Homo sapiens: one gene and its partner. The protein of the gene in region 1 interacts with the protein of each later gene in a biochemical or structural test. Each region holds a gene or a part of one and is shown in the gene's direction. Other genes may lie near its edges.

Region 1 (3,500 bases):
AAACTCCTGGCCTCAAGTGATCCTCCTGCCTTGGCCTCCCGAAGTGCTGGGATTATAGGCATGAGCTACCATGCCCAGCCCCATTTTTCAAATGAGAAAACAAAAGTCAGGCAAGGTTAAGCAATTTCTCCCAGGCCTTACAAACATTTCATAGTATCAGAGGTGGCATCTGAACCGAGACAGCCTGGCTGCAGAGTCCAAGTTCTTTCCCATGGTGTGATCTGAGCTATGATCATGCTGCATATCTCAGGGATGCTTCTCTACTCAACAAACATCTACTGAGCATCTGCTGGGCCAGGCACTGTGCTGGGCTCTGGGGACATAGCAGTGAAAAGGACAGAGATGACATTCTGATGGCAGAGACAGACAAACACATTATAAAGTAAGGTCCTTTTGGGCTGGTCACGGTGGCTCAAGCCTGTAATCCCAGCACTTGGGGAGGCCGAGGCCGGTGGATCACCTGAGGTCGGGAGTTCGAGATCAGCCTGACCAACATGGAGAAACCCCGTCTCTACTAAAACTACAAAAAATTAGCCGGGTGTCGTGACGTGTGCCTGTAATCCCAGCTACTCAGGAGGCTGAGGTAGGAAAATCGCTTGAACCTGGGAGGCAGAGGTTGCAGTGAACCAACATTGCACCATTGCACTCCAGCCTGGGAAACAGAGGGACACTCCATCTCAAAAAAAAAGTGAGGTCTTGAGGTCTTTTTGGACTAAGTGTTAGGAGTTAATACAACCACAATAGAGAGTGATTTTAATGACGGTAACACAAGGGACTCACTGTGCCAAGCAGTATTTTTATTTTTTATTTTTATTTGTTTATTTTTTGAGACGGGGTTTTGCTCTTGTTGCCCAGGCTGGAGTGCAATGGTGTGATCTCGGCTCACTGCAACCTCTGCCTCCCGGGTTCAAGTGATTCTCCTGCCTCAGCCTCCGGAGTAGCTGGGATTACAGGCATGCACCACCACGCCTGGCTAATTTTTTGTATTTTTAGTAGAGTCGGGATTTCTCCATGTTGGTCAGGCTGGTCTTGAACTCCCAACCTCAGGTGATTTGCCGCCTCGGCCTCCCAAAGTGTTGGGATTACAGGTGTGAGCCACTGCGCCCGACATTCTTTATAATTTTTAACTCATTTCATCCTTATGTCCTCCCATCAGAGTGCATACTGTTATTTAGCCCATTTTATGACAAAGAAAGTGGCTGGCACACGCTTTCTTGAGTCTTCTGCTTTGGGGGTATCAAAACCTATAACTGGGCCAGAGGCAATGATCAGGCACAGAGAGGGTGAGTAACTTGCCCGCAGTCACACAGGTGGCGGAGTGTTGCTGGCAGAGGGAACAGCAAGTGCAAAGATAGGTGTAGTCACCAGAGACAGTGGGTATGAGGTTGTTTGAGGCTGAGTTATCCAGACATGAGTGGGTCCCCAGCAGGGGCAGCAGAGACAGCGGGGCAGGTGTGCTGGCTGGATAGACTGCTGCGTGTTTGTGTTCTAGGAGGCCAACGGTCCTGCTGATGGCTACGCAGCCATTGCCCAGGCTGACAGGCTGACCCAGGAGCCTGAGAGCATCCGCAAGTGGCGAGAGGAGCAGAGGAAACGGCTGCAAGAGCTGGGTGAGGGCGGGGCTGAGGCGGGGTTGGCTGGGTGGGCTGTGTGTGGGGTGGAGTGTGGGGAGTCCTCGGAGTGCATGGGATGCTGCATGCCTTAATGTGGGACTGGGCCGGTGCGGCCCTGTGGCTGCCTGGCAGGGGCCAGGGGAGGAGCGCGGCCGGGCCTGTGCATCCCAGCTGGAAAGCAGCCACTCATTCTCTTGTGGGGTCCTAGATGCTGCATCTAAGGTCACGGAACAGGAATGGCGGGAGAAGGCCAAGAAGGACCTGGAGGAGTGGAACCAGCGCCAGAGTGAACAAGTAGAGAAGAACAAGATCAACAACCGGTGAGAGGGCTGTAGGGACATGAGGGGGCCATGGGGACATGAGGGGGGCTGTGGGGACATGAGGGGGCCGTGGGGACATGAGGGGGCCATGGGGACATGAAGGGGTGGGGACATGAGGGAGCTGTGGGGACATGAGGGGGCCGTGGGGACATGAGACGGGCTGTGGGGACATGAGGGAGCTGTGGGGACATGAGAGGGGCTGTGGGGACATGAGAGGGAGCTGTGGGGACATGAGAGGGAGCTGTGGGGACATGAGAGGGGCTGTGGGGACATGAGAGGGGCTATGGGGACATGAGAGGGGCTGTGGGGACATGACTGAACACTGCCCAGTGCTCCCTGCCTTTGAGGCTCTGTCCTTCACGGTACAAGGTCTTCCAGGAAGGGAAAGGCCTGTTCTGGGAAGCTACCCTTCTGTCTAGGGAACTGCTGCATGCCAGGCTCTGGGGTAGGCACGGAGGAGATGGAGATAAGGAGGACCCAGCCTTATGTCCTCAAAGGGCGCAGAGGAGAAAAACACACATGTTCAACTAAGCTCAAATACAGTAGGGCCCTCTGCACGAAGGCCATGGAAGCAAGGAAACAGGTCAGGGAGAGACCTCTGTGTCTTGGGACTTGGGCTTTGGAAGATGACTAGGAGGAAAAAAGGGAAAAAAGGGCAGGAGGTAGGGGGGCATTCTAGACCTGGGTACGAAGAAAAAAATGTGATGTATTAGGCAACAGGGGGCCAGGGAGCGGTGGGAGAGAAGGCAGGAACCTGTGGACTCACACTGTAAGGGCCTTGGCTGATGAGTTGGGCAGTGACATGGGCAGTGGGGAGCCACTGAAGGTGTTTGAACAGGAGTAACATGATCAGGGATGAATTTTAGAGAAGGTGCTGGGGCCAGGGTGAAGGTCCCCATTCTCCTGTTTGGGGCTGTGGGTCGTTGCTGAGCCTTCCAGAACTATGCTTCCTAACATTTCTCCCACTGGAGGTACTAATGCTGTCTCTCTCTCTCTCTCTAACCTTCTGCCTGCCTGTCTGTCTTGCCATCTGCCTTCCCCCACCTAACCCCTTCCCTCAACCTTTCCCTCAAGGATCGCTGACAAAGCATTCTACCAGCAGCCAGATGCTGATATCATCGGCTACGTGTACGTGTCTGTTTTGCTTCTCTGTTGGGGGAGCTAGAGAGGGAATGGCCACCACAGTTTCTTGAGTTTCCTGCTTGTGGGATATAAATGAGTGTGGCTGGGCTCGGAGCAATGGTCAGAACAGGAGGCAAATGCCCTGGTGGGTGCAGGCAGCAACCACCTCCCTCCCTCCAGTGAAGTGGAGGCTGCTTGGCTAAATCAGAGCCTTGCAGGATAAAGGCAGAGAAAGGAATGTGCTTGCCACTTATTCCCATGTGGGAGGGGCAAATGGCAGAGCACCCCAACTCCCTCCCTCTGTGATGTCTCTTGGTGGGTGTGTGGGGTGAAGGGTTTTTTGTTTTTTGAGATGGAGTTTCGCTCTTGCTGCTCAGGATGGAGTGCAGTGCTGCGATCTCGGCTCACTGCGACCTCCACCTCCTGGGTTCAAGCGATTCTCCTG
Region 2 (3,500 bases), on another chromosome or scaffold:
CCTGGCATGGGAGAAGGCCAGTGTGGGCAGGCAGTGGCCCCACGAGGGAAGTGGAGAACACTCACAGGCACGCTTCCCACCTGGTGACGCTGGTGTGTTGATGAAGCACAAATGGGGTGTACCAGCATCTGCTGGAGAAATTCCCAGATCTGCAGAGGTGACAGGTACAGGGGCTTCCCTGCCTCAGGACCTGTAACAGCAAAGAAACACAAACGTCCTAAACATGCCTCAGCAGAGGCTGCGTCTCGCTGTCTGTGCAGAGCAGAGAACGGAGGGTGGTGGGAAGAGAGATGTGTCGAATCTGGGATGGCCGGGAAGATCTAGAAAACATTCTACTGTGTGAAATCAAGCAGATTGCCGAACAGCATGGACATACGTGTTGAAGATCCAAGCAGTACTTTATGTGTGCTGTAATTTTTTGCAAGGAAAACATACTTAGCATGACATGTAATTAGAGATTACTTTTTTAAAAAGGCAAGGGGCGGCACTTTGTGTCTTCCTTCTTGCCCCTCCCCCCCAGGCTCTCTCCTGTCACTGCAGAGATTTGCAAGTGGTCCCATCACAGGCAAGGCAGGAGCAGGACCTGAGGGGCCAGGGCACAGGTCTGTGCAGCGGGGGCTGTCTGGCCGCTCTCCCGTGCTGGCCAGCTGCCTGCTCTTTGTCATTCTCTCTGCCCCAGAGAAGCTGCCAGCCAAGGAGGAGGCAGCCTCATGTTTGTCCTTTGTCCCTCCCACTTGGTAGTTCTGATACAAGGCCCGATTGTCAGGGGCAGGGGAGACGGGCCCTGGGGGTGTCAGGGGCAGGGGAGACGGGCCCTGGGGGTGTCAGGGGCAGGGGAGACGGGCCCTGGGGGTGTCAGGGGCAGGGGAGACGGGCCCTGGGGGTGTCAGGGGCAGGGGAGACGGGCCCTGGGGGTGTCAGGGGCAGGGGAGACGGGCCCTGGGGGTGTCAGGGGCAGGGGAGACGGGCCCTGGGGGTGTCAGGGGCAGGGGAGACGGGCCCTGGGGGTGTCAGGGGCAGGGGAGACGGGCCCTGGGGGTGTCAGGGGCAGGGGAGACGGGCCCTGGGGGTGTCAGGGGCAGGGGAGATGGGCCCTGGGGGCAAGCGAGGTTTCAGGGTCACTTGGGGTGTGCAGAGCCAAGCTGTGACCCTAGTGCCGTGTTACTTGGCAGAAGCCCTGCCTGTTCCCACATCTGTAAAGTTAGGCATTTGGGGTGCTCCATCGTGAGCCTCCTTCCTGCTCTAACATTCAGCGTGGGTTTGAGGCCCGTGGGCATGGAGCTATCCGTCACCCTTGTCAGTCGGGCACCTCGTCCTGGGCTCCCAGGTGGAGGTCTCTGGAAGCCCTTGCTGAGCTGGGCTGGGAGCTCCTTTGCCCTGACCTTGTTGTTGCCGTTGACCTCCTTCATGGGAGCATCTGGTCTTGACCTGGGGCAGCCACCAGCACATGAGGCTCCCGTCTTGGAGGCAGGGGGCACACTGGTGTGTGGGAGCTGGCTTAGGGCCCTGCTTCACAGTTGGACCACCTTGGACAGGTTGCCCAGCTCCCAAGGGCTCACGTTCTTCCTCCTGCCCCTTTTGCACAGTTTTCCGACAGCTCAACACGGCCATCGCCGTATCCCAGATGTCCTCAGGCCAGTGCCGCCTGGCCCCCCTCATCCAGGTCATCCAGGACTGCAGCCACCTCTACCACTACACGGTCAAGCTCCTGTTCAAGCTACACTCTTGTGAGTGGCCCAGGGCAACCCCTGGCCCGGAAGGCTGTGTTTATATGGCTTAGACATTCACTGTCAAAAAGGAAAATCGAAAAATTAGAGGTTTATTCATTTAAAAATGGCAGTAATAAACCCACTGCCCATTAATAGAAATAACATATATTTTATGAAAAAAAAAAAAAAAAAACCCACTACTTTACCAAGCAAAAAACTTAGTGAGTGGCTTGGTTTTCATTTTTACGACTAAATGCCTGGCTCGGCCAAGACGGAGGCCCCAGCTGCTCCCAGGAATCTCCCGCCAGGCACCCTGGGGGTGCAAGCGCAAAAAGGCAAAAGGTGTCTGGGGTGTTAGGAGAGTTTTGATCTAACCAACCCCTTGAAAGGGTCTCGTCCCTCGACCGCACTTTGAGAACCACTGTGTTAGTGTCAGCCTGGGACCAACGTGTTTGGTGAAAGCGGCTTGCTAGTGCCTCCCGAAGCCAGGTGTGGGTTAGGTGAGATGTGGCCGCAGCGCCTTCCTTTCCATTCGCTGTTTCCTTCTCTAGCTCAGTCTGAACTGAGCCCTCCCACAGCGTCTCCCACAGGTCTCCCCATCCCGATGGGAGAGCGGGCCTGGCCCGGTCTCAGGTGATCTCTGATCTGTGAGTTTGTAGCATACGGAGGAACAAGGCAGGGCAGGTGAGCCCCTGAGCAGTGTGCAGAGAAGTCCTGTTACACTTGTGCCACCCTCCAGGTCTCCCTGCGGACACCCTGCAAGGCCACAGGGACCGGTTCCACGAGCAGTTTCACAGGTACTGCCTGGGACAGGGACAGGATTGAGGCCGGTGGGGGAGAGGCTCCGTGGCCCCTTCCTGAACCCGAACTTCCCACCATCTCTGCAGCCTCAGGAACTTCTTCCGCAGAGCCTCCGACATGCTGTACTTCAAGCGGCTCATCCAGATCCCCCGGCTGCCCGAGGTACCACCCCCAAGAGGGCCCCGAGGCCCTTTGAGGACCCCAGGCACCTGGCTGGGCCCCACACAGGCTATGGAGATGGCGGAAGGAGGGCTTGCTTAGGGGACAGCTGAGCAGGTCCCACCTGCCGCCCCTGCAGGGACCCCCTAACTTCCTGCGGGCCTCAGCCCTGGCTGAGCACATCAAGCCGGTGGTGGTGATCCCCGAGGAGGCCCCGGAAGATGAGGAGCCGGAGAATCTCATTGAGATCAGCACAGGGCCCCCCGCGGGGGAGCCAGTGGTGAGCCCCCTGCCCAGCCCGTGTCCCCCAGTCCTCCAGCTGCAGCATGAGGCCAACGGGAGTGTCGGGTGGCCAGCCCTCCCTTTGCCCACTGCCCGGCCTGGAGGGCACAGGTGAGTGGGGTCACCATGCTTTGCTGTGGCAGGTGGTGGCTGACCTCTTCGATCAGACGTTTGGACCCCCCAATGGGTCTGTGAAGGACGACAGGTGAGGGCTGGAGGAGCCGACTGGGCTGGGGGTGGTTGGAAACGGGCTCAGCTGAGCTGTGCTCTGGACAGTTCTGTCTGGAAAGGCCATAGGTGGGGAACATGAACCCGTGAGGTGCCCAAATCCTGAGTGGCCACTGAGGAGGAGACAGGTTCCTGTGCTGGGTCTGTTGACTGTTCTGGTTGACTTAACTTGAACCCCAGGACCTCTGTCCCCAGGGACCTCCAGATTGAGAGCTTGAAGAGAGAGGTGGAAATGCTCCGCTCTGAACTGGAGAAGATCAAGCTGGAGGTGCGGGGTGGGGATGGGTGGGGGCCAGGGCCCCTCACGGCCCAGGCAGGGCC

Evidence for each region. The genes of interacting proteins can lie anywhere in the genome.
Region 2: the proteins of CLTB (region 1) and HIP1R form a complex in vitro, tested with the Homo sapiens proteins (2 studies listed by BioGRID).

The regions. Positions count from the first base shown.
Region 1 is NC_000005.10:176,396,040-176,399,539, reverse strand, and holds part of CLTB (clathrin light chain B), read left to right. Parts: intron 1-1,492; coding exon 1,493-1,610; intron 1,611-1,821; coding exon 1,822-1,933; intron 1,934-3,007; coding exon 3,008-3,061; intron 3,062-3,500. UniProt on the Homo sapiens protein: Clathrin is the major protein of the polyhedral coat of coated pits and vesicles.
Region 2 is NC_000012.12:122,852,457-122,855,956, forward strand, and holds part of HIP1R (huntingtin-interacting protein 1-related protein), read left to right. Parts: intron 1-1,586; coding exon 1,587-1,727; intron 1,728-2,448; coding exon 2,449-2,506; intron 2,507-2,596; coding exon 2,597-2,672; intron 2,673-2,808; coding exon 2,809-2,949; intron 2,950-3,094; coding exon 3,095-3,156; intron 3,157-3,374; coding exon 3,375-3,447; intron 3,448-3,500. UniProt on the Homo sapiens protein: Component of clathrin-coated pits and vesicles, that may link the endocytic machinery to the actin cytoskeleton. Binds 3-phosphoinositides (via ENTH domain).